Regions from separate parts of the Homo sapiens genome. Here region 2 is linked to region 1. Evidence: fine-mapped expression QTL. A gene starts in region 1. The other region holds a variant in brackets. All regions are shown on one strand. Distances are between the middles of the regions. Region 1 holds the start of MYO9A (myosin IXA). Region 2 overlaps MYO9A (myosin IXA).

Region 1 (16,474 bases):
ACATTATGTTCCCATAGCAGTGCTGTCCAATAGCACTTCTTGTGACGGAAATTTTCCTATTTTTTGAGATGGAGTCTCACTCCGTCGCCCCGGCTGGAGTGTAGTGGCGCAATCTCGGCTCACTGCAACCTCTGCTGCCTGGGTTCAAGCGATTCTCCTGCTTCAGCCTCCCGAGTAGCTGGGATTACAGGCAACTGCCACTGTGCCTGGCTAATTTTTTGTAGTTTTTTAGTAGAGACAGGGTTTCACCAGCTTGGCCAGGCTGGTCTTGAATTCCTGACCTTGTGATCCACCCACCTCGGCCTCTCAGCGTGCTGGGATTACAGGCATCAGCCACTGTGCCTGGCCCGGAAATTTTCTTTTATCTGCAAAATGTTCAATACAGTAGCCACTAGCCCCTTGTGGCTATTGAGTTCTTGAAATATGGTCAGTGTGACTGAAGAACTGAGTAATTTTAATTAACTAAAATTTAAATAGCCACATGTGGCTAGTGCTAGTATACTGGACAGCTCAGTTCCACAGGCTTTCATAGGTATTTCCTGAAATACCTATGAAGTGAGATTACATGGTTAAAAAAAATAGCTCACACCTGTAATCCCAGCACTTTGGGAGGCTAAGGCAGGCAGATCACCTGAGGTCAGGAGCTTGAGACCCGCCTGGCCAATATGGCAAAACCCCATCTCTACTGAAAATACAAAACAAGTTGGATATGGTAGTGCATACTTGTAATCTCAGTTACTTGGGAGGTAGAGGCAGGAGAATTGCTTGAACCTGGGAGGCAGAGGTTGCAGTGAGCCGAGATCACCCCACTGCACTACAGCCTGGGCGACAGAGTGAGACTCCATCTCAAAAAAATAAATAAATAAAATAAATAAATAAATAAAAAAGAAAAAAGATTACATGGTTAATTAAATTAGGAAATGCTAACTCCTAATGCACACACACACACTAGAGGCTAACGAGAGTTTGGCGATAAAAAATTTTAACTTTTTTTCGTATGATCTTTTCCCAAACTTATTTAACCACGAAATAGTCTTTCTTTTTTTTGGAGGAATATCTATCAGTACTTTATTATCTGTATATTGAAGTATGGGATATGCTTGCTGGATTTTTTAATAAGTAGCATTGGCACAACTTGTTAATTATTTGATTAAAAAAGTAAAGAGTTTTACCTCATACCTTACATCAAATTATATTTTAGATAGAATACAAATTTAAATGTTAAAAAGTAAAAAAAAAATTGTTAGAAAATATTAGTTAATACACTTACATGACTAGTCAATAAACACATGAAAAGACACTGGACATCAGAGTAGTAATCAAATAAATGTAAGTTAAAATAAAATTTCATTTTTTTACCTGTCAAGTTAGCAAAGGTGAAGAAAACTAATAATAATTAGCATTGCTGAGAGATTATGGGAAATGAGTAAATGATGCCCCATTTTGATAGGACTGTCATACATGCAAGCTTTTTCAAGGGTAATTTGCCATTATATTGGAATTCTTAAGAAATTTATATATGTAGGTATTATACTTTAAGAAATTTAACTTAAGGGAGACATTAACAATGTGTGCAAAAATTCAACAAGATATTCACCATGGCAGTATTTGTAACAGAAAAACTGGAAACAATCTGGAGTTCAAAAAAGGACTGGTAAATTAAACAACAGGGTTTCCACACGATGGAATAGTTTTCAGCCATTAAATATAATATTGTCAATACAAATTTATTAAAAGAAAAATGTTCATAATATGCTTTGATATAAACATCTGTATATGATAAAAATATACAGAAAAATAATCAAGAACGATATCCATCAAGTGTAAATATCATTTTAAGAAATAGGATTAATACTTTTTTGCCTTTTTCCTTCTACCTTTTGATATTGTGCTTTAATTTTTCCCCCTTTTTTAATAATGAACACATAATTAGTAAATACAGTGATTTCCATATTGAAGAGGAATAAAAGATGTACCAGTTCCCACTCTTATAATGACATAAAATATTTCCATTTTTTCAACTTCTGAGTCTTACTTCTGTCCTCTGGATAAAACAGGTAAATCTAATCTCTTTTCCATAAATGTTCAAACACAAATATTTAAAAATAATTTGATGTTTACTAAAATTAGAAGATTATGTCCAACTTCTAATGTCTGATTCAACTTGCACTTTCACAAAAAGAATCACATCCAAGACCAAATATGCTTTTTATGGCAAAAATATTTCCAGGAAGGAAGTTCATGGCTTTTTTTTGGGGTTTCAATTTCCCCCCAATTAAAACGTTTCCTTTTAAAACTAAGCCTAAGCCATCTGGAGATCTGTATAATGTGGCATGTAAGAATGACCATCAAGATTTATTATATAACCCTCTTGAGTACACAGATTAGATTTTACTCATCCTTCTAACTTCAGTGCCTGACAAGCTAGAGTTTTAATAAATAAATATTTTTCCTGAGTGAGCAAAGTACAGAAGTGAAACATATCTTGAAAAACTCAGGAAAACACAACACAGTTATAAATGTAAGAAATATTCTCAATTTTATAAATGAGCTATGAATTTAAACAACATTCCTGTAACATCAATATTTCAGAGAGGAATTCAGCTCTCAAAGTACAAAACCTACTTGGTGTGATGATGATGCTTGGTAACTCTACTGCTATAAATTCCACTTTATTCTGTCTGGGGCCAAGGAGATAAAACAGGTGACTTTTTAGGATTTCATCTAACACCAAGGCTCTCCATTTATTGCTCTGTAACTAGGCACAGCTATCAATGGCTAAGGTGTCATTGACCATGAAAATAATTTTATTCCTGGTCTACCATTTCTACCTCAAGAGTTCCATTTGTAGGCTGGGTGCGGTGGCTCATGCCTGTAATCCCAGCACTTTGGGAGGCCAAGGCGGGTGGATCACCTGAGGTCGGGCGTTCTAGATCAGCCTGACCAACATGGAGAAACCCTGTCTCTACTAAAAATACAAAATTAGCCAGGCGTGGTAGTGTACAACTGTAATCCTAGCTACTCGGGAGGCTGAGGCAGGAGAATTGCTTGAACCCAGGAGGTGGCGGTTGTGGTGAGCCAAGAGCACGCCACTGCACTCCAGCCTGGGGAACAAGAGCAAAACTCCATCACAAAAAAAAAAAAAAAAGTTCCATTTGTAATTGTGTCACAGTTTTTGTCCTCAATATAAACCTGGTGTATACCAAGTTTTTCTTGTGGTGACTTTGTTTTGCTTCAAATTTTCTGAGAAATGACTTTACACAATTGCAAACTTTGAAATGACTAGGAGTGAGGGTCAGGTGTGGAGAGGCCATTAGAATTAATAAGACGTCTGTGTAAGATAATATTTTATAAAGGTGTAGACAGAACTTTATTTTAGTACATGTGGTAACAAAGTCTGATAAGGAGTGGTTAAAGCCATGATTTACCTCATTTCACAGATAATCACTGTGGTCAGCACATGGCAGCTCTATGCAAACACACTATTTGAAAGAACACAAAAAAGCTATGATCTTTTAATCTCATTTGTTCTAAGGATTTCAAATCCTGGCAAGTTATTTTTTTCATAGATAGTTAAGAGGTAAATTGTCATTACAAATTGCTCATTAGTGGGTTTCAAAAATGTGCCTGGCACATAGTAGAGGTTCAATAAATATCTAATGAATTAATGAGTAATGAATCACACGACTTTGAGAGTTTTATTCATTGGCCATCAGGGAAAGCAAGCCTAAGGTTTTCAAACAATAATACAGATGCTCAAAATAGTAACTATAGTTGGGACAAATTTTTTGGGATCAAGACAATGATCCAGTGCTTTTATAAGTTGATTGTGGAGTAAGCCATTTAATTGGGAGCCAGAGAAAGGAACTTTCAGAAATTTTCTGTAAGTAATAAAAATTATTAAAAAGCCTCATAAAAGTATTATTTCTGATTTCAGATAGACCCACTCCTCCTCCTCCCGCAAAAGGTGTCAGATAGCTGAACCTCAAGTTCTGCATAAACTTAATTCTTCCTATCACCACCCAAATGGCCTCCAATTATTTGATGGACAGAAAGTCAATATAGGCTAGTTATGTTGAAGAAGGTGGTAATGGTGGCCTCTCTGAGAACCTAGTTCTGGAAGTTAATTTTATAGGACTCATTTGGATCAGTAATACCTAAACCCCAAATTCAATTTTTTAGAATACATTTAAAAAGTACATACTTTGGGTACTAGCTGGATTTGAGCAGTAAGTTTCTATAGTCCGGTATTGATCAGTTTCAAAGGAGATGGGTTGCCTGGGCCTTGAGGACTTCACATTCTTTTGCTAATGTGTTTAAACTAAACTTCTTTCCCATCCAAGAAGTTTAAGGAATTGGCAAAAAGAGAGGAGTTCTGACTTTTAAAAGTCAGAAATGTAGGACTCACAGGTATAGACAGGTATATAGACAGTACATACTTTGGGTACTAGCTGGATTTGAGCAGTAAGTTTTTATAGTCCGGTATTGATCAGTTTCAAAGGAGATGGGTTGCCTGGGCCTTGAGGACCTCCCATTCTTTTGCTAATGTGTTTAAACTAAACTTCTTTCCCATCCAAGAAGTTTAAGGAATTGGCAAAAAGAGAGGAGTTCTGACTTTTAAAAGACAGAAATGTAGGACTCACAGGTATAGACAGGTTCTGACTTTTAAAAGTCAGAAATGTAGGACTCACAGGTATAGATGGAGTTTGACTGAGGAAGGCCTTGGCAAGATCTGTGAACTTATGGTAAGGCCATTGCTTTATTAGAAGTACTAACAATATCATTTATAATACAAAAGACTGGGCTAGCCTCTTGACCACATAAAGTTAACTGACTCCCACACTGGGGTATATATTCCTGTTGACAGGTATGCCATTTATTCCAATGTATGTTACTCTAGACTGGTCAGCACATTGTGGAAATAAAGGAATTTAGCAGACTCTAGAGATCACCTCAAGATTTTTTTTGGAGACAGGCTCTCTGTCACTCAGGCTGGAGTGCAGTGGCATGAACACTGCAGCCTCGACCTCCTGGGCTCATGTAATCCTCCTGCTTCAGTCTCCCGTGTAGATGGGACCACAGGCAGGCACCACTATGTCTGGCTAATTTTCTTTTTTTTTTTTTGGAGAGACACGGTCTCACTTTGTTGCCCAGGCTGGTCTTGAACTCCTGGGCTCAAGTGATCCTCCTGCCTCAGCCTCCCCAAGTGCTGGGATTACAGGCCTGAGCCACTGCACCTGGCCCAAGATTCCATTTTTCAAAAATTAATTAACTTATTGTTCTAGTCTCTTCATTCCTATCTTCTCTTTTGATAATCTAACCTGCACATTATTCTAGATTTTCAAACAGAACTCTAATCACATTATTCTACTCCAAAAAATTTTAACAACCCTCCATTGTCTACCAAAGTAACTACAAATTACAGCCTGGCATTCAATGATTTCCACAAAAATAGCCCCAATCTACCTTTCCTGATTTATTTTCTGGTATTACTCTCACAGACATATACACCCACAAGCTCAGTCCCTCTGCAGGCCCTGGTTATTAGGAAACAGTGGGATAGTACTGGTTGCTGCCCCAGAGCCAGCCTCTCATCCCAGCAGAGAGGTTGGGAAGTGAACACTGCTTCATCATTTTTCTGAAACACAGATTTGATGTCATGCTCTTGCTTAAAACCATTATACTGAGATATTTTAAAACTTAGGATCCATAGACCAGGATGTGGCTAGAATATCAGGGTTCTGTGAACTTAGACTGGGAAAACAATTGCATCTTTGTTTTCAATAATCAGTAGCTGAAATTTAGCATTTCTTCAATAAGTGTGGACCACAAACTACAATATTAGCACTCTCTTTTTTACCAATAGAAATCTGATATTTTCACATCACATTAAAGTTGCTGCAGGCATTTCAAAATATAATTTATAGTCATCACTACTTAGAAATTATATAATTAGACCTGCTGCCAGATTTTATTTAATGCATAAAGTGCATATATATCACACATTTGTTTTAATATTTTAAAAACTTAACAAAATTAGTTTCCTTTATATTACTACGTATTCTATTTTATATATTTAAGAACATTTTTCTGAGACTGAATCTATAAGGTGGACTGCCAACAAGGTCCACTGGGTAAAAGAGGTTAAGAACCTTTTTTGTACTTATTAATTACTTCTAGTAATATAATCTAAACTCTTCACCATGGAATTCAAGGCTCCTCATAATCTGTTCACACCCACTTTATCATCTTCATCTCTGTCCCACCTCTACTCTCCATACTATGCTCTAGCCATACTAGACAACAATAACTCGTTCTTATCTGGGTCTGATAGACAGGTTTTTGGATTAACCCTAGTTAATAGATAGCAGCCATACACTGTCTTGGTCTTTACCTCATACAGCTTCTCTGCCTGCCAAGTGAATTCTTTGTTTAAAGGCCTGCTTTCCCTAATACGGTAATTTTCCATCCTAATTGAGCTGTATTTTAAATATCTTTATATCTCATTACTAACTTAAATGATAAATAATAGAAAAAGATTCTAAATTGGCAAGGCACTGTATGTAGTAATCTCTATGAGAGTGGATGTTGGTCTTTGCATCTCATAAATTGGCTTAGCTCTGGATGTTGGTCTCTGCATCTCATAAATTGGCTTAGCTCTGATCATTTTGGGGACAGAAGTGGGGATGGCCTTTGAGCTTTAAGGCTGGAGACAACAGCTGACCAATCCTGGACGGAAGGGAACGGGAGAGCAAAGAGACAAGTAACTAATTTGGACCTGATAAACACTGAGGAATGAACAGTGCTGAAGAGAAAGGCAAGAGTGGCTCCTTCTCCCATTTCCCAGACCAGTTATTCCAAACATAACGCCGCTCAAGTTTCTCATTCCATCTCCAAGCCTCTCTGTAGTTAAATGACCTCCATCTTTTTTTTCTGGGGGCGGGGACGGAGTCTCGCTCTGTCACCCAGGCTGGAGTGCAGTGGCGCGATCTTGGCTCACTGCAAGCTCCGCCTTCCGGGTTCATGCCATTCTCCTGCCTTGGCCTCCCGAGTAGCTGGGACTACAGGCGCCTGCTACCACGCCCGGCTAATTTTTTGTATATTTAGTAGAGACGAGGTTTCACCATGTTGGCCTGGATGGTCTCGATCTCTTGACCTCGTGATCCACCCGCCTCGGCCTCCCAAAGTGCTGGGATTACAGGCGTGAGCCACCGCGCCCGGCTAAATGACCTCCATCTTAATGTTACAGAGCCAACTGTCTCAACTTCCTTCTCTCTAGTTTAGTGAGTCTCAATCTTTAGCATTAGAGTCACCTGTGGAGCTTTAAAACAGTAATGACACCTGGCACAACCCAGAATTTAATTGGTCTAGAGTGGGGCAACAGTATTGGTTTTATTTAACAAAAAGTTTCCCAGGTGATTCAAATGCACATACAAGGTTGCGTTCCACTAGTGATCTTGATCTTATAAATTAGCCTCCCTCACCCTCGAAGAGGCCACTTCTCGGTTTCATGGTACGCTTTTGAGTCTTCTACCTAAACAGAAAACATTCCTGAGGGCCATATTCTCGTTCCTCATTTCTCTAACTTTATAACGATGCTTCTTTAAAGGGAAGTCTACACTAGTACGGTTTCCATCAGGTTTATTTTACTTCTTTTTTCTCTTTCAGACCACCACTGTCACATGCTCTTGCGCCCGTTATTCTGCTTTTACCTCCTTTCGTATTTCTTTGACCAGGTACTGGATTACTAGTCTTTTAACACAGTCCTCTAAAAGTGACCCAAAAGTCACCCTGGAAAGGGCTTCCTCACGTTATCCTCCTACACAACCTGGGACCCCTCTTCTGTGCGCAGACAGCATCCCGTGCATTTTTCTCTATTGTCACTTTATTGTACTACCACTGCGGATTCTCTCACGGTCTCCTATACAAAAGCACTTCAAAAAGCTGACACCACTTAATTCGCCTCTGACATTCTGGAACCCAAGGCATGGAAACCACTCAGTGAAAAGTCTGAGAAATGAATGGAAACGGAGGTCGGGGCGGGGACAATGGAGGGGGCAGTGGGTGGAGAGAGCGTGCGTGTTTGAAAAGGGGCGGGGGCTATGACCGGCGGCGCTGAGAATCCAGGTCCAGAATCGGGAGGGAGCACGGATACGCCAGAATCTGAGTGGGTGGGAGAGCGATCCACTGCCGAGACAAACCGAAGTGGGGAGGAGGCTTCTTACCTGCCTCGGGCCTCACCACCCCAACCAGCCTTCAGGCACCTCTGTGTTGGCCGGAAAGCGACAGCTACGGTCGCAAACTCAGAGGTTTCGTCCCCAACCTTGCGACATCCCTTTCCAGTACAGGGAGAATCTAAAGCTGAGTTCCCTGCTCTGCCGTAAGGTGAAGAAGAAAAAATTTGGGCGGGGCCGCCTGGGGCGTAGGAAAGGGGGCGTGTCTGCGCAAGCGCACGCTGTACTCTCCAGTGGCGTCACGTGCGGGGGCGGGACAGGGCGGGGCCGACCCGTGCTGGCAGTAGGGGGCGTGGGAGGTAAGTGCGCGCGCGCCTGCTCGCCTGCAGCCGGGGAGTCGCGCGGGGCGGGGCCGCGTGCGCGGGGTCGGGGGCGCGCGACCGAAGCGGATAAGGGACGCGGCGGCGGTTGGCTGTGTCTGTTGAGAGAGTACAGGACAGCCCGGACTGCGAGAGGCGGCGGCGGAGGCAGTAGTTGCACCGGCAGAGGCGGCCGCTGGCAGCGGTTGAGGCGGCGGTCCAACGCGTGCTCTCTGGGCGGGGTGCGGCGGGGGATGTGCCTGCTCAGGCCGGGCGGAGTCTCTCTGACAGGGCGGGGGATGCGCCGCGGCCGCTCGCCCGGACCCTGAGGCTGCTGGGCCCACCCTCCCGGAACCGTCCGACCCTCGGTGGCCTCGGCCTCTTCTGCCATCTCCGGTCCTACCCTGGGGCGGAGGGTGGAAGGCAGCTTCCGTCGAAGAGGAGGGGGCTGCGGTGGCCACCGCGGCGGAGCCCGAGGTAAGACCCGCCCAAGCGCCCAGCGGCCCTGCAGCCCGTCCTGGCCCACGTCTCAGCCTCGCTATTTGGCTCCGGTCGGGCCGCCCCGCCCCGTCCCAGCGGAGACGCCCCGCGAGCGGGTCTGCGCCGAGCCTCCCAAACACCAGATCACGGCCCCGGATCCCCAGTAGACCCCACCCCCTGTATCTTCCATTGGCCGGGCACCATTCCGGCCCTCCAGCCTCCCCGGAGATTCTGTCACGGTCCCCCCAACCCAGCAGACCCCATTAGTACCCCTCAGAGTCCCTTAGGACTCTTAATGGAGCTTCTAGACTACGTTACATCCTCCCTTGGGCTGACGTGATTACAGTTCTCAGGCAAAGTCTCGACCGCCCCCTAACCCATTGCGTCCCCCATGTGCCCCTCGCCCTACTCTTCTTAGTAGAACCCCTCCCAGCTCGCTCATCACCAAGCCGACTAGCACTAACCCTAGCCATCACGGCTTTCAGATAGCCGCTGTCATGGTGTTCTTACTCCCGGTAGATGTGGTGTCAGTCCCTCTAGACACCGTCACAGACTTTGGCTTCTCTCCCACCACCGACTGTAGCCTCTCTCAACAGACCTCTCCTCAAGCAAACCTTGTTATCTTTCTCCTTAGTCGCGATCCTTTCTTTGGTTGAAAGGGCTTTGCCATGAAATCCTGAGGGAATATTTGCTTAGCCTAATGTATTCCCTCCATTGTGGCTTAAGGGGACCGACCGAGACCCATGTTTGGAGGGGTTGGGCTGAAAAAAGTGGGAGGCAGAGTGAAGTTATGGAAGCATGAGGCCAGTTGTGTGTGTGCCATTATAAGGTCACAGAGCCTGCACCTCGTCTTGTCTGTTCTGTGTAGAACGTGTGAGGTTGTCCAGCACTGATGTTTTAGGGACCTCTGTAAGGATTAAATCACGTTGCACTAGTGGATATAACTATGTCGTCTTGTAGTATTACTTCACCTCCTTGTCGATTGCTGCAGATACTAGAACTGTTTCTTATTTTTATTTTTAAAGGATACTAGGGGACTTTTTTTGGATTCACTGTTTTTTGGATTTGCTAGAAAAATAAGATTTGTAGCATTCCTTAATCCCTGAATGCTTCGATGTCGGTTTAATAATAAACTTCTGTTGCCTGGTGCTGCTGTCTTGCTTCTCCAAGAAGCAAGTACAGAAATCATGCAGTGTTCACTGAGGTCATTACCAACAACAGCCTTCTCAATAGCAGTAAAATGTTGAATAAAATGTTTGTAGAAGTTGAGCTCCTGAGTTGTCAAGAAAGAAATGTAATGTTGCATCAAATGATCAGTACGTAATTTTAATATTGGTATAAAGATGAAATATAAAGAGGTCTTTGTAGTCATACACACACACACAGTAAAAAATGTTAAAGTAACAGGAGAAAATCACATTAAAATTATAGATAATAACTAGACGTAAAAGCCAAAAGTTTCGGAAGAGTAATGTAGTAAAAATTTCTGTTCCGCCTTCACTCTCCAGCCACCCATTTTTCCTCTTTAGAGGCAACCACTATTTCCAGCTTCATGTGTATCCTTTCTGTGATATTTCCAATATATAAACCTACACATTTATATTTTTAAGACACTGTACACAAATGGTTGCATACTTTACATTCTATACATAGCCTGTTTTTTTTACTTAATACTACATCCTAGAGGTCATTTCTTAACAATACATATGGAAGTGCCTCATTTACTGGCTGGATAGTATTCCATTTTTGTGGACTGGAGGTTATTTTTGGTGTTTTGCTTTTACCAACAATGTTACATGCTTTTCTTTTAAATGTGTCTGATGTTATATGTATGTTTAAATAATTTTGTGAGTTGAAAAAAATTCCTGATGATTCTTTTATGTTGAACCTACAGAAAGGATGTAACTAAATTTCTCATTGAACCTCTGAGCTTCCACAGTGTGACTAGCTGTGATGATGATTATAATATTTATTAAATTATTGAAGGATTTTAAAGCAGGGGACTGGAATGATCAGATTTGCATTTTAAAAAAGTCATTCTGGCTGCAGTGAATTGAAGAGTAGAATAAGACTAAAGGCCAGGAATATTAGGGTTATCCAGGCAAATGGTGAGACTGGATCTGAACTTGGATATTCGGAGTTGAGTTGGTGATTTTATTGTATTTGGGGTTGGGGAGAAGTTGCATACAGGATAAAATCTAGGTTTCTGGCTTGTGCCTTTCACTGAGGTGGGGATTCCCATGAAGGAGTGGGATTTTGTTTTTATTTTGTCAAGGAGGAAGGATAGAGGGGTTAATTTGTGACATGTTCAGTTTAGGTGACTGTAGTTCTGTCAGATGTAGATGACCATTAGGCATTTGGATTTGTGGCTGAAGCTCAGTATCAGGTTCTGGGTTGATAGCAGTAGATTTTGGAGGCAAAATCATACAGAAGGGAGGAGAAAAGGTTTTAGGATGGAAACCCAACATTTAAATTACAGGTAGAGTTGAATATTTAAATTAGTAAATTACATGATTAAGTGCCTTTAAAAAACTTATTCTAGTTTAAGCATTAACAGTGAGATTCACTATCTAATATATGAATTTTTAACAGTTGTTTTCCCTTAGTTATTTTAGTAGTATATAGTTCCTGAGGGAAATTGGGTAAACTTAGATTTTTTTTAACAAGTACCTCAATAGAAGTTAGCGATATAAACTCCATCTTTCCTAATCATTTGGATTATACTATGTGGAAGTTTGTTCAGTCTTTAATAGCAGAGAAATGTAGGAGGTTTGAAAATATGATTTGCCAAGAATATTAAGGTTTTTAGTTGGAGTGATTTTTGGTTATGTTAACTCAGTTTGAAATAAATATTAGTCAAAGACTTTTCAGACATTTTAAAAACCACAATATTGACTTAATGTATTGATTCCTAAGTCTAGAACTGCTGTCTAGAGTGCTTGCCTTTGCTCTAGACCCCTGTAAAAGCACTGCCTAATGGATATCACCACTTTGATTCACATTTCACAAACACTTCAATCCAAACATTTAGGAAACAAAACTCTTCCTGCCTCTTTTCCCCCCACAAAAACAGTGGAGAGAGAGCCGGAGACAGAAACTGCAACAAAATTTTTTCTTCCCCCCGATTTCCTACCTTGATTAATGGCACCACTCTTTCCTCATGAAACCTTCAGGAACCTGGGAATTGCCCTCCGCTTCACTCTGTACTTCACTGCCAACATCCAGTCTGTCACTGCCTTGTACATTTTCCCTCATGATATTTCAGGTCATTCCTTATTACTTTTTGTTGCCTCTATCTTATTTTAACTGAAAATATCTGTTTGTTGGGCTTCTGTAATGCTGAGTGGTCTTCTTGCCTTCTGTCTTCTGCCTCTTGTCATGCCCTCCTGTTCATTCTCTTGACTGCTGTTGGAGTAAGTATTCTAAAATGCTCTTTTAGTCAGGCTCTTTCACTTGGAGGGAAGAGACTCAAGTTACCTTAAGTAATGAAGTGCTTATTGAAAGGAACCATACACAAGGGAACCCAGGAAAAGTTAACTTGCTCTCAAGAAGAAAAAGAACCTAATAAAACTTGCTCTCAAGAAGAACAAGAACCTAATAAAGCTGGAGACCCCACTCCAGTGCTCCATTGTTAGCTTGTCCTAGATACCGTTTCTTTCTTCAGTTTTTTTCCCCCTATGTCATAGCTTCCATTTATTACTAATTTCTGCTCCTTATAACTACTATGTGACCCCCATGCCAACATCTTGCCTCCTGGCTGCAATTGTTTTAAAACGTTTTAAAAGAGGTTAGCTCCTGTTGCTAACCTCTTCCTTTTCCCTAGGATTTTCTGGTTTGAATTCCAGATTTGGCTCAGCTCTTTTTCTCATTGATTGCTAACAAGTCTGTGTACTTAGGTTATGTCACCACTCTTGGCCATTTATTGTTGGCTGTGTGTTTGTATGTATATATGGGTATCAGGAAAGATCTTAATGGTGGAAAGTATGGGACAGTGTGCAGGCTAATTTACCGCAAAATGGGGTTGTGAGCATGGCCCACACCATAATTTTGACATGTATAGTACAGATAAAAATCAAATCATGTCCTTTCCTATTGAATAATCTTCAAAAAAGCTGTCTCATTGCTTTCAGGATAGAGTTTAAACTGTAGCATGGCATGTGTATGAGATCATTCATGATCTAACTCTTAATTCTCTAGCTTTTCTTCACTTGCTGTCTTCCTTACATACTTTAATCCACTCTTACTGACTTTAGGCTTCCTCTCAGGTAATGTGCTTTCTCTCTCGTCTTTTACATTTGATGTTCTATTTCCCTGATTTCCACTTTCCCCTTTCTTTGCTTGGCTAATTTCTGTCTGACCTTTAGGATTCAGTTCAGGTGTATATTCTTCAGGAAGATTTCCTTTACCTCTTTTCAGATTAAGTTAGGTACCATTCTTATGTGCTCCTGTAGCACATAGTAATTACTTCTATCATAGTCCTCTAATGAAATAGCTTAATTACTTGTCTGTTTTCTTCACTAGGGTTTGACTACTTTGGTAAGAGGGATGATATCAGTGCTTTTTAGTAAAACAAGTTTTTAGATTGAGCATTTTAAAAAATATAAGTTCAGAAAAAATAGGGTCTCACTGTGTTGCCCAGGCTGGTCTTAAACTCCTGGACTAGAGCCATCCTCCTGCCTCAGCCTTTGAAAGTGCTAGGATTACAGGCTGAGCCACTGTGCCCAGCCTAAAAATATAAGACTTTATAAATTATAAAATATACAAAAAGTACACAGCTGGTAAATATATAGCTCAGTGAATTTTCACTAAGAACATACCAGTGTAACTAACATCTACATCAAGATATAGAATATCACTAGAACTCTACAAGCTGCCTCATGCCTTCTTCTAGTCACTAATCCAGCTCATAGAGGATTTAATTTACATGGGAAACCCTTTAACATATAGGTTTCTGTACCTATTTTGTGTGTATCTTTAGACATGCAAGGAGTGTAGGTATTGGAATTTTGATCCTGTAGAAAGAACATACCTAATTTATGTTATAGAAACAATTATGGCATAGTTTCATACAATAGACAAGTTCAAAATAACATAATACTACTAAGGTTTATTTGTGAGATGTTATATTTAGGTAGGTGTTTTTGTTTTATACATTTAATATGATTTTAGAGTGGCAGAAAATAATATGATAGAACAAAGTATATTTGCTGAAAATGGCCTATGAATTATGAGTGGTAAATATGCTTGGGATAGGTATAGTAAACATGTAAAGCACTTTCCAAATAGTGTTAGGCCTCTGGGTTTTAATGTGAATTATGTTGCTGGCGTATTTTGGCAGTGGGGTCATCCAGCGGGCAACTGAAGTGTAATTTTACATGTACAGTGAGGAATGGACTAGCTGTCCTGTCATAGACAGCTGGCTTGCTAAAAATTGTGTGTGTTTTTTTTATTTATTTATTTTTTTTTACAATTAGCAATAATTTTGGAGCATACTTTTTCTCAGTTTTGATTTTTCTTAAACTGTAAGATTGTGTAGCTCTTTGAATATATAACTGTATTCTTTTAAATATTCTTTTTCCTTAGATAGGCTTTTATATCTGTGAATCTTAAATCCATTAAGTGGAGAGAATATGGATTCTCAAACCTAGATTTCTAACAGACCTGGATTCAAGTTCTAGCCTTATAACTTTGGAACTGTCATTTATGGGCAAGTCAGTTAACGTTTGAGAGCTTGTCAGAATTTTCATCTCTCAATTGGGGATAATTGGGAGGCAGAGGTGGAGGTAGGAGGATCAGTTGAGCCTAGGAGTTTGAGACCAGCCTGGGCAACATAGGAGACCTTGTCTCTACAAAAATGACAAAATTATTATTAAATAGCTGAGTGTGGTGGCATTCACCTATGGTCCTAGCTACTTGGGAGGCTGAGGTGGGAGGATCACTTGAACCTGGGAGGTCGAGGCTGCAGTGATCTGTAATCATGCCATTGTACTCCAGGCTGGGCAACAGAGTGAGACCCTGCCTCAAAAAAAAAAAAAAAATTGGGGGTAATATTTGCCTCATAAGACTATCATTGGAGTTAAAAAAATTTTTATGTAAAGCACCAAGCATATAGTAGGTACTCAGTAAGTCTTCCTTTTCCCTCTTGAATACGTCTATTTCCTGTTTTATTTATTAATTTTTTTTTTTTTTTAAGACAATCTCACTCTGTCACCCAGGCTGGAGTGCAGTGGCGCAATCTCGGCTCACTGCAACCTCTGCCTCCTGGGTTCAAGTGATTCTCGTGCCTCAGCCTCCCGAGTAGCTGGGACTACAGGTGCACGCCACCATGCCCGGCTAATTTTGTATTTTTAGTAGAGACAGGATTTCACCATATTGACCAAGCTGGTCTTGAACTCCTGACCTCAAGCGATCTGCCTGCCTTGGCCTCCCAAAATGCTGGGATTATAGGTGTGAGCCACTGTGCGCAGCCTATTTCTTGTTATGTTTAAATGTGAAATCAATAATTTTTTTTTTTTTTTGAGATGGAGTCTCGCTCTGTTGCCCAGGCTGGAGTGCAGGGGTGCAATCTCGGCTCACTGCAAGCTCTGCCTCCCAGGTTCACGCCATTCTCCTGCCTCAGCCTCCCGAGTAGCTGGGAATACAGGCACCTGCCACCACTCCCGGCTAATTTTTTGTATTTTTAGTAGAGACAGGGCTTCACCATGTTAGTCAGGATGGTCTCGATCTCCTGACCTTGTGATCCGCCCGCTTCGGCCTCCCAAAGTGCTGGGATTACAGGCGTGAGCCACCATGCCCGGCCGAAATCAAGAATTTTAAGAATTTCACTGTGTGGCTTTTAGAATAAATGGCTAATCAAAGTTTGTTGCTAAAAGAAGCAGATATTAGGGCAGTCTGTCTACTAGTTGTCTTTCAAGTGTGATTTTTTTCAGTTAAAATATTTCTTGTGGCATTGGGGCATTTAAAAAATATTTTTGAAAAAATACTGCAAAGAAATGCTTCTCTTGATGTCTTAGCATATAAGATTAATGGATTTTAGAATGTATTTGATTCAGTGTGAGTTATCATAACAAAATGTGTTCTGTTTGTCAATGACAAACATTCCTTAAATAATTGACAGATTTTAGTACTATTGCTGTTTGTAGTGTGTAAGTATTTGTTTGAAATCTGTTTATTTTTATTGATCAGATGATAGTGGGCTGAGTAATCTCTGGAATTTTCTTTTTTTTTTTTTTTTTTTTTTTGAGATGGAGTCTTGCTCTGTCTCCCAGGCTGGAGTGCAGTGGTGCAATTTCGGCTCACTGCAACCTCCGGCTTCCGGGTTCAAGTGATTCTCCTGCCTCAGCCTCCCAAGTAGCTGGGATTACAGGTGCCTGCCACCGTGCCCAGCTAATTTTTGTATTTTTAGTAGAGATGGGGTTTTGCCATGTTGGCCAGGAAGGTCTTCAACTGCTGACCTCAGGT
Region 2 (11,708 bases), 290 kb after region 1:
CTCGCAGAGTGTTTCCATTTATTCTTATCATTCACCTGGTGTGATGGAAATACACTTGTTATCCTAAAAGAGCAATGTAAAACTGATGCAGTCACTCAATTTACTTTCTAACATGAATTTTTCTCTGCAGGGAAAGGGGCGTATTCGTCGAGGAAACTATCCAGGTCCATCGTCTCCTGTTGTAGTTCGGTTGCCTTCTGTGTCTGATGTCTCAGAGGAGACCTTGACTAGTGAGGCAGCCATGGAGACTGACATCACAGAACAGCAGCAAGCAGCTATGCAGCAGGAGGAGAGAGTACTGACTGAGCAGATTGAGAACCTACAGAAGGAGAAGTGAGTATCCAGGAGGAAGGGGAGAGACAGTTATAGTCTGTTTTTGTTTCCTTCCTTCTATCGTTTCTTTATTTTTTCTTATTTATTATCTCCTGTGTGTTAAACACTGTGTCAGATGATACAGGAGATGTTGAGATGACAAAGACGTGTTGTCTATACTCAGGTAACAGTGTGAGAGTTGTTCCCTCTGGGAAGCCAGTTCCATGAGCTGGGAAACCTGAGGCTGCTACAGTGATGGTCTGTAGAGGCTGACTGGGAGGAGGACACAGTATCCACAGGGCATGTCAGTCTTAGTCACGATTCATCTAGCAGTAACAGTGGGGAGCCAAGATGAGGTACTGGAGTCCTAACAGGTCGGAGACCAGCCTCCATGAACAGATTTATTTTGCAAAGAAGAGAAGGAATTCTTAGGCTAAGCCAAAGTCCCTTTCAAGAATGGGCATTATTCACAAATCCATGAAGGAAGGTTATTAGCCAAAGATCCATATGACCATGGGAACAGCAACTAGATGGTCATAGTAAGGCTATAGCCCTAGAGGGTGCTAGGATACTAGATAGGGAAATTGGTTGCAATTTAGGAGAGAGACAAATGAGAAGCTCTTTTACCTCCATTCATCACTGTTGCAGGGATTGGGTGACAGTATGCCTTGGGGATAATATGAACGTGCCATGGTTCTCCCTACAGGTGCTGTGTAATAGTTCTGGTCGACATTGATGACTCTTAGGAAGTCTTAATGGGATCTTTATTCCTGAGTTCCAGGATCCCAGGTCTTGAGTTTGGTTTATAAGGGGATATAAGACTGTTAAAATACTTTCTTGGTCTCTCATGATTGATTCTGGAATATAGGCCAGCTAAAAAAGCAGCTGGGGCTCAGCTGTAAAAAACATGATAAGGCAAAGATGATGTACATTGACCAGGGGCTATTTGCTAGAAGAGTGATCTGAAAAGAAGACCCAGTTTGGCTTTGATGCAGATGATATTGGCAGTCTTGAAGGATTAATAGGAATTTTCAAGGAAGGGGAGAGTCTCTAGAAAAAGAAAGAAGAACGAGCAGAGTCTCAGAATGCACATGGCCTCAGACAATTGTAATGCTGGTGATACTGTTCTTGAAATGATTGTTCATGGATCTCAAGCCAGGTAAAGGGGAAGTAAAGGTAAGGGGCTCTGTTAGGGAAGAGACTTGATTAGAAGGTGAGTAAGAATTGGAAGGATAAGGAGGTTGTGAACAGGGTGGAGTGTTGGATTCAGAGTAATGACAAGCTCCAGGATCTGTGCATTGGAGAAAGTAGCTTAGATAAAGTAGAGGAGAATATTGTTAGAAGTTGCAGACATAAAGGAACTTCAGTGTTAGAATATTCAGATGAGTTTTTACAAAGATATTAATTGAATAGATCAGGTGATGTCAGGCATTAGTGAAAAAGCAAGATTAGGATCTGAGTACCAAAGACCTCACAGAATGTGGGGCATTACTGAGAGGTAGCTGGGTGACCGTGATGAAGAAGGGAGACTAGAGAATACGACAACTGAAGATGGCATAAGCTTCAAAGGACAGAAAAGATCAATCAGTGTTTTTCTTCGTCTAGAGGTCTCTGTGGTGAAGATAGAGGGTATCGTCTATAGCCAGTTAGTAAGCTTCATGGAAAATAGTTTAAGAGCTGGAAGGAATCTTAGAGGTTATCTAGTTTAATCTCTTTGTTTTGTGGTAGGAAGCTGAGGTCCAGAAGAGAAAGGTACTTTCCTGATGCATTATGGATATTATGAACAAGGTTAGAGCCCTGATCTCCTGCTTATCAGTCCAGAGTTCATTTTACTGAAAGATCTCACCACTACATCTTTCTTCACCCTACCCTTACCCCTATTATTGGTCCTAGATTGGCTATCTGTCATTTTGTCCTTTAGTCCATATAGTTTTAGCCTTCACCATATTTGGCATACAGGTCCTCATCACCACCTGGATGGGGACAGTAAAAATGGACTCTCTTTGCTTCTTAGATTCCTGACTTCCATGGAGGATCTTTTTTTCTGTTATCTTCCTTCCACTTCCTATCAAATGCTAATGGTTTCTTGATTGTGTCTTACAGGGAGGAGCTAACATTTGAGATGCTTGTACTGGAACCCCGTGCCTCTGATGATGAAACCCTTGAGTCTGAGGCCTCCATTGGGACTGCTGATAGCTCAGAGAATTTGAATATGGAGTCTGAATATGCTATCTCTGAGAAATCAGGTAAGTGAACATGGTAGACCAAAGACTCCAGATTTGTTTTGCAAAGGAGGAATAAAGATTCCAAAACTAAGACAAAGTCTTTTAAGAATTTACTGACTGTACATCAGCAATAACAAAGTCTTGAGGAATTTTGTCCTTTTATCCATATAATTTTAGCCTTCATCGTTTGGCATACAGGTAGTGACCTGGATGGGGATAAGAAATATAAGGGGATAAGAAATATAATTGTCTTTGCTACTTAGATTCCTGACTTCCACGGAAGGTCTTTTTTTTCCTGTTGTCTTTGTAAAGCTTCCATATACATTGTTTATCAAACCAACTCTTCAACGTGATTGAGTTTTTTGTTTTTTGTTTTGTTTTGTTTTGTTTTTTGGTAATTTAATGTTTTATCCTGTACTTACCACAGAGAAAAGCCAATAATCACAATATATGTTGTCTTACTGACCCATAACCCATTTTCTGAGGGTGGCAGGCATTGTGCCCCCACTGTGAGGTGGGACTATATACATATACAAAGGAGGTGTTTAACTGGGTGGCATGTCTCAGGGAGATGTAGGACTTACCTGCATATCCTGGCAGTTTTTGAAATGATAGTGACTGTTCTAGGCCTCCGCTGATGGCATAGTCAAACACCAGATTTCCTTGGAGATGATTC[G/A]GAAATGCTACATAGAGAAATGGATGGTGAGCTCTTACTGTGACTGTGCCCATAGTAAGTCATCCTGGACCCTCTGAATCTTATCCCACCCAATTTCATGTGTGAACAGTGGCATCTATTCATTATATGATGATTTGCTTTAGAGGGCACTGTCATTTACATCTTTGGTCTCTTTTTTGCATTAGAAAGAAGCTTAGCCCTTAGCTCCCTGAAGACAGCTGGCAAGTCTGAACCTTCCAGCAAGTTGCGAAAGCAACTTAAAAAGCAGCAAGACTCTTTAGATGTCGTGGACTCTTCGGTCTCCTCTTTATGTCTGTCTAACACGGCATCATCTCATGGGACCAGAAAACTATTTCAGATTTATTCCAAATCTCCATTCTACCGAGCTGCCTCAGGTAATGAGGCCCTGGGAATGGAAGGACCATTGGGCCAGACCAAATTCCTGGAAGACAAGCCTCAGTTCATCAGCAGAGGAACCTTCAACCCGGAAAAGGGCAAACAAAAATTAAAGAATGTGAAAAACTCACCTCAGAAAACCAAAGAGACCCCAGAGGGGACAGTCATGTCTGGCCGCAGAAAAACTGTGGACCCAGACTGCACCTCCAACCAACAGCTAGCACTCTTTGGAAATAATGAATTTATGGTCTGAACCGGCAGATGTGTGTCCCTCCGTGGCTACAGAGTGGTAAACAAATCTCACCTTTGGGGCTGCGTTTCATCACCTCGTCCACAATAGTCAATCCTAATTGTGGTCCTGCCTCTTTTCTAAGCATATGGCTAAGACTGTATGTGCTGAATTCCTGGGCCTCCTGCAGAAGCAGAAAGCCTGCTGGGGATGGTGCCAGCTGTGCCTTGGCTGTTGTATTTGAATTGAGATTTTTACTATACAAAGCCACCTAGGGCCTGGGGATTTGGGTCAGTTGTAGTTGCCTCTCCCCCACCCTCTTTTCCCTTCCCAAAGGTGGGTGTTGAACTAGGGGGGATATTGCTGTCCTGAGGGACCCTCTCATTTCTGACATTTGAAGAAAACGTATAAATCTTTCTTAACCGTGAAAGCAAAAGCCTTTGGGTTTATTTTGGGATAGTTAGGAGCTAGGGTAGAATATAATTTTTTTCCAAAAACTTACTTACAAACAAAAAGCCTAATCCCTCTATTTTAAGATTTCTGAAAAAACACTCCATGTTATATTCTGGGGAAAGCAAAAACAAAAAAAAAAAACAAAAAAAAAAAAACAAAAAAAAACCGTGATTGTTTCCATTAAGCCATCAGAGCGTGTCTCAGATATCTTGTTATACAGTGAAGAAGAGAATACCTATTTTTTTTGATGATGTTTGATGTCATAGTAATCAGTGCTGGTTTAACTCCTGTTTAGTTCCTGCCAAATACATTGCATGGGCTGAAGTGTCAGTAGCCATACTGTTCTCATGTTTCTTGGTCCTAGGATCAGATTCTTCTACATTATTTTTTAGTTTCCCAGAGACATGGTGATCCCTAAACTTATGAAGGTTTCATCCTAAGCCATTCAGGCTTTTCTCTTTGTATAGATTAAACCGAAAACCGCATATGAGCCTGTTCATCTGCTGGTGGATTCCCACCACAGACTCAGACTCAAACAAACAAACAAATAATGTGACCGTTTAGTTAGTTTCCAAAAACATTCACATACAATATTGCATGAATAAGTAAGTAAGTGTTACAGAAAGCTGCCAAAAAATAAAAAGGTTTTTAATATGACCTATCTAACTAACTAACTTTTATCTTCCTTTTCTCAGACTATCAGTATTAAATAGATGGAAAAAAATCAAGGACTACTTGAAGCTATTTTTGTTAATATTCTGGTTACTGAAGTTTATTGTAAATATGTATGTATAGTAGGCATATTTCTTTTTAACCTTGTGCTTCCCTCCTTCCCATGGAATTTCTTCCCACAGATGAGGGGCCACTGGACAGGGGGATGAGAGCCATTCGTCCCTGGGTTGAGGGAATTAGTAAGACATCATTTTCACCACTGGGTGGTCTTCATACACATGAGTTATAATAGCATTTTAAGTATCTTAGCATTTGTGGGATTAGAAATCTGTTTTTGCTATTTATAATATATAAAAAATGAAACATGATAGCCTTTCTTGAGATAAGTATGTGAAATGTTTATTTTTAAAGTTACTAAATGCATCTTGTCTTGCTACTACATGCACTGCTCTGAAAAAGAGCCTTTACCATCTATAACCTGTATTTTGGGTATTCTTCCTTTTCATACTTCTTTGAAGTTGTGGAAATATTAAGTCTTTTGTTAAGGCAGAGTCTCTCTCTCCTGTTACACAACACTGAACCTCACGCCACTGCCTCAGTGGTTATTGGCCAGCCCCAGAGGTTAGACTTGGAGCATAATTCTGAGTGGCAGCTAAAGGTAGCAGGAGTCTTACCTCTCCCTACTTTGGGTTCAGAATTGAGCCAGAGAAAGGAAGCCATTAAAATCTCCAGAATAATGATAGTTAATGAGCAAATGTTATGCTTTATATCCCACAGACATCTGCCACCTTGTTCATCTTGTCCTGAGGAGTAATAAATAATGTTAAGCTTTTAAAAATCTGAATTTCAGAGAATCTCCTAGAGGATAGAGGAAAACCCCTCAGCATGGTGTGTTAGAGTGGGATTGCTGGTTCCTCAGCCCCGTGCCAGGTTGCACAGTCTGTGTTTCAGTGTTCTTGGGAGAGTAGTGTACTGCTGGGCATTAATTGTTACTCTGCACTTGCTCCAGAATGTTGGTTAAATCCTGTATGAAAAAAAGAGATTGCCCTTATGGAATAATTTCCTGTGGCCCAGAGGAATGGCCAGAAGAACATATGTTGGCACATGTTCTTCCTTCTAAATCTTTGTGGGGCTTTTTTGGCAAAATAAGTTTTTTGGCAGTTAAAAAACGACTGATGTAGGTCACTTTAAAGGAACTAGGTGATGGATGTTAAGAGACTTTATAATTTTTCTCAGGGACCTGAAACTCCAGTTTGGATAAAATTCAATTAAAAAAACTTGTTTTTTCAGTTGCTAGATTTGTGGATTTCTAGTAATTTAATCTGCCAGGATTGGGGTGGGTGGGTGAGGAGGAGAGAGCCACAAAATGATAAGAGTGGAGAGCAGTGTGGGGCCCTCCCTTTGAGGGAAAGCCGTTGTTTACATAGGGTAGTAGGCCTTGTTGGCCTGATCAAGAGATGAAGCCATAACTCTTAAAAACCTTCAGAACCAAACGCTGTGTCTGCATCCATCTGTTCTCACTGGCCCTCTGCATGGTAAAGTTATGTCACCACAAAGTGATGCCGCATTACAATCACTTATGAAACTGTTAGCCCTTAATATGCATCACATTTGTGGTTCCATAGTGCTTCTCCTTTGCTTGTTTGATCTCTGCATGGCAGCAGTGGGGCAGCTCCACATTTGGAGCCCATACTCCAAAATGCAGAGCACTCTTCTCACAGCACACATTCCCAGCCCCAAACAAAACCTGAATTTTCAACTCTGCCCATTAAAGTGAATGTATCCCTGTAATTTAGTATGTACTTATTATGGAAAATGTAACAAAAGCAGAGAAGTGTGATTTCATTCTGTATCACAAATTGAAGCAAATCAACAGCAAATACAGCAGGATTCAGGGAGGCTTAGTTTACAACGTACTTTGTACCTCCTGCCATTTAAATTATTTTGCCACTCTGGGCTTCTGAAAACACAAAGGGAGATACAGCCCTCCAACTATGAGCCTTGCAGAGAGAGACAAAAGGGCCAGAGGTCCTGGGATGGAATACTAGAGCCCCCACCTTCTCATGCTTTGGAAACCTGCCAGAGCACTTACCCTGCTGGAAGATTAATGAAGACTCCATTCTGTGTTTCATAACAGTAGCGTTGTTTTCTCCATCAAAAACAGAGGGTCACAGAAATGTGCTGAAAAGATGTGGTCCAGCAAGGTTCTGTAGTCCCACCTCAGTGCCTGTGGGCTGTGTTTTTCACTGTAACAAGCACTTTGGTAAACTAGAAAGAAGAAAGGATTCTCAGGATGTGTTCAAAGCTAAGAGAGTTTTCATTTTAAAAAGAAACATACATACTCACTCCATGGCTTTCCTCATCCTCCTCTCTTTTTTCTTCTTGGTGGGAAGCTGGATGCGGGGCATGCATCATTCTGTATGGACAAATGTGTTATGTCCACCCATACTCTTGTGACAACTCCCCAGCACTGTCCTGCAATACCATGCTGGCCTTGGTAGTAAAACTCCTTGGTATCTGTGAGAGTCCTCTTTTTCTATGCCCTAGACTACTTTTAACCACTTTTCTCTGGAATGACTCCCACATTTGATTGGGTATTGAAAGGGTAACAGCAAAATGATGATTGTGGAGATGGATCTATTAGGTCTCATGTTGGTCCCCTGGTTGAAACTATTTTCAAAAAAGCCCCAACAATGGGCCTGTCACCTTGCTAGTCATCCATTCTTAATGCCTATTTATCAGCCCTCTGAGGTCATATAAAAGTTGCACCTTTTGAACCAAGTATTTGTATTTACTATGGGAAAGGTGTGGACTACAGATTCGTATTATATTATTTTAATGGATTTTAAGTAATTTATAAGTATGCTGAGTGTAAATTTTTTTTAAAAACTGTATTATAAAAGGACATATCCTGTGAAATATAACATTTTACTGTTTAATAGAATAATTCTATAAGAAGAATGATTTATCTCACCCACGGAACTGATTACATTCCGGATGCAATCAATAGGCACTTTGTAATTTCCTTTTTGTTTTTTTTTCTTTGCTGGGGGGTTGAGGGGTAACAAGATACCATCTGTATAAAGTGCAGTTTGTGTCACTCAAAATATGCACTGTATGGCTACACAAAAGCAGCTTGATGAACAAATCACCCCATGGCTCATTAAAGAACAAAGCTTCCAGAAGCAGCAATATGTGTGGTTTGTTTTCCAACCATCCTGGCTCCCACTCCAACTATTCCAACCCAACTCCAAGAAACAGCAGTGACTTCTTAGTTACACTGATGTGTTTTCAGGAAAGGACTCAACCCAAAGTTGACAAAGCACAGAGGTGGTAGTCACTGGAACTCAACTGAATTCAAGTGAAGGTGTGATTCAAGGTGTCGTTTTTTCTGTAGTGGATGCAGGCTGCTGGCTGTCAAGACTTCATTTAATCGGTTTAAGGCTAGAAGGGAGGAAAAGCAGTAAATCTGCATTTAGGATCCTCCCCTAAATTGGCCACTTGAAGAAGTTGCTAATAGAGGTTGCCAATAGAGGGCCCAAGGATTCTCACTGAAATTCAAAGCAACACATTGCAATAGGAACAGAAATTTTAACTCAGTTTGTCATTTTTGTTCTGCTACCAACTTTACTGCATGTCTGGGAAAGGCATTCGCTCTCTCTGAATGTTAGTTTTCTTATCTGGAAGTCAGTTCTGTTTCCCAAACTCCCAGCTTTGGAGAACTCCTACTGACTCGCAGGTTTTAGTATAAAAGGTAGTTGTCCTAGGAAGTTTGCTCTGACCCTGTGAATTGGGTTAGAGGTCTGTGTTCTCAACAGCTCTCAGTTTTCACAGCGTCAAACACTTACCTGTCTTGCTGACTCTTAGATCCCAGCACCTAATAAAAGGTGCTGGCTAGGCAGATATTGGATGAGAGGATTGACTAGGATCAGTGGTTCCAAAATGCCAAATCAGGTCTGAGGTTACATGGGGAAAAAAACATGTCCCTAATGCCAAATGTATTCAATTTTTAAAATTCTGGGGTCATCCTTCTCACTTGTTTTTACGTTACATTTACATTTTCATTTTTGCATTAAATTTATATTACATTGAAATATGAAGTGTTAATTGTTTAAAATTCCCTTAGTTGCCCAAATAAAACCTAGAAATACCATTTTTATTTATTTTTATTTTTTTGAGATGGAGTCTCACTCTGTCACCCAGGCTGGAGTGCAGTGGCACAATCTCGGCTCACCGCAACTCCCACCTCCCAGGTTCAAGTGATTCTCCTGCCTCAGCCTCCCAAGTAGCTGGGACTACAGGTGCCTGCCACCATGCCTGGCTAATTTTTGTATTTTTAGTAGAGACGGTGTTTCACCATGTTGGCCAGGCTAGTCTCAAACTCCTGACCTCAGGTGATCTGCCTGCCTCGGCCTCCCAAAGTGCTGGGATTGCAGGTGTGAGCCACCACACCCAGCCGAAATACATTCTTAAAACTTGCCCCTGAGATGATTACTGAGAAGACAACTATTGTGATTATGAAGACCTGAGAACAGAAAGGTATATAAGGAGAGGCAAGTTATAAAGTGACCACAGCTTTGGTTTGGTTTGTTTTTTAAATTGCTTTTGCCCCTAGAATGGGTGGCAGTACAGTGTCTTAGAGCCAGAGATATAAACATGAAAGTAGATAAAGTACATGTAATATCTGACTGTTGAATCTTGTAGGTATCTCAGACTCACAGTCAAGGAGTGTGTCACTTCCAGGTAGTGCCCACAGGCATTGTCCTAGGTGCTTAGGGTACATTAGTGAACAAAACAAAGATCTCTGCCCTGTGGAGCCTGCATTCTAGTGGGGAACACCAGTGATGTCCACCAGATAGAGACTAGTCATCCATGATACCTGGGTTTGACTATGAGGTTGCGCTTCTTGGCATCTTTGAGTCTTTCCCTGCCCTTCCTACCTTGAAATATCCCCTTGTGGGTAGAGGAGTGTCTCGTGAATCTAAAAACTAGCTTTATTTGAAAAGAAAGGCCCAGATAGTCCCACAGGGACTACCTCTGTGGTGCTTCATAGCCAAAGATATTTCTGGCATTGAGGGGGAAAAAAAAAAGCTTTCAAATTATCTACCCTCCTAATAAGGACCCTAAATGCAATGGAAAAGCCATTACTCATCAGAATTTCTGTAGAGCCAATCTACAACAAGAAGTTGAATAATGGCTGCCATCATCCTAGGTGGTTTACAAACAGGAGTTTGTATTCTTGTCTGTAAGACATGCTGAGAGCTGTACCAGGTTAGGAGAACAGAGGCCACTTTGTATTCCAGGTGAGATGGACTTAATACAGAAATTAGGATCTAACAAAGGTCAGAGATATTCCCACAGGTCAAGAAAGCCAACGCAAATCTCAGCTACAAGTTCCAGAGGAGTTCTCAAGAGCTTGCCTGGAAGCTAGTGCAATTCTAGCCAGGAGGCTGCTATGAAATCTATTTTCCCACGACAGGGCTGCAGTGTCTCCAAAGAAAAATGGCTTCTCTTTTTCCTAATGCCAAATTTAATCAGTTTGGCATTAGGGGGGAAAAAATCTCCTGTGAGTGTCTTTCATTAGCAAATCCTAGGGGAAAGGGTTTCTGGGAAATGTAGTTCCTTCCTGGCATCTCTGCAGTGAAGAAAAGCCCTTAGAAGTGGGGGAGGGGTGGTATTGATGCCCGATTGACAGCAGACAATCCAGCTTATGTACTTCCTCTAATTCTCCAAGACTTCTTGGAGAGCCCTCAAATCTCCTTCCCAATGTAGATGTGCTGGGCTCACACATCCCAGATGCTAGCCTGTGAACTTCAGCAGGCTACCTTTGCAGTCTTACCATGTCCTCCAAAGCCAAACTGTAAGATACATACGCAGGGCTGGTCATGTCATATTTCAACCATGTGTCTTACTAAGGTGGCTTTGCTCAGGGCTTAGCTCATATGGATAAAACTTTTGATAGGGAATTGGACTGTATAATGGCATTATAGACATTAGTTGACCGATTAACTGAGGCCACTCTGATACTTTGAAAAGTTGGAGAGAATCTGAAGTAGCCTAGGGGCTGAAGTAAGAAGGGCTTCAGCTGGGCAGCATTTGCCATACTCTTTCCTCTCTGGCACCAGCCCTAGCGGTTCTGAGTTCCTGAGTAGATAGGGCATTTCTGTCAGCTAAGGGAATTCAAACACAAGCCAAAGGACAGGGAACCCCTAGGATTTCTCAGCCTTCTCACATGACCCTTTCTGTCTTGATTTCAAACACTTATCCTTTGAAGGCAGAAAATGCAACAGAATTGTTCAGTCTTTCATTCCAAAAGTGAAGGGGAAGTTGGGAAAGAGGCGGTGCCAAAGTTAAGCAGCATTAGGTAGAGTCACACCAAGGTTTGAGTCCTCTCTAAGCATCAGTTTTTTCACTTATAAATGGAGAAAATTGGCTCTTCCCTCAGAGTTAATCTGCGGATTAAATGGCAATTTAAAAAGTGCCCGGCTCACTGCCTGCTATTAATATATACATTGCCTGATCTATGTTAACATGTTAAAATATTATTTTCACAGTCATCTGGGTCTATCTTCAAAAAGGATTAGGTTCACACCTGTAATCCCAGCACTTTGGGAGGCCAAGGTGGGTGGATCACCTGAGGTCGGGAGCTCTAGACCAGCCTGGCCAACATGGAGAAACCCCGTCTCTACTGAAAATACAAAATTAGCTGGGTATGGTGGTGCATACCTGTAATCTCAGCTACTCG

The links.
Region 2: its variant is fine-mapped to the expression of MYO9A in blood mononuclear cells (TOPMed, PIP 0.99).

Annotation. Positions count from the first base shown.
Region 1 is chr15:72,110,216-72,126,689 of GRCh38, reverse strand. MYO9A (myosin IXA) reads left to right here and starts at 8,540. Exons shown (of 42, transcript NM_006901.4): 1 at 8,540-9,010. SENP8 (SUMO peptidase family member, NEDD8 specific) reads right to left here and starts at 8,287. Exons shown (of 2, transcript NM_145204.4): 1 at 8,226-8,287. RefSeq lists a silencer at 8,419-9,188 and an enhancer at 9,389-9,598.
Region 2 is chr15:71,818,734-71,830,441 of GRCh38, reverse strand. It overlaps MYO9A (myosin IXA), which reads left to right. Exons shown (of 42, transcript NM_006901.4): 40 at 131-333; 41 at 2,416-2,558; 42 at 3,399-8,151. The coding sequence ends at 3,862. Among named protein-coding and RNA genes, the nearest start is that of NR2E3, 14 kb to the right of the region's middle. The variant G/A (reference allele first, on the strand shown) is at 3,214.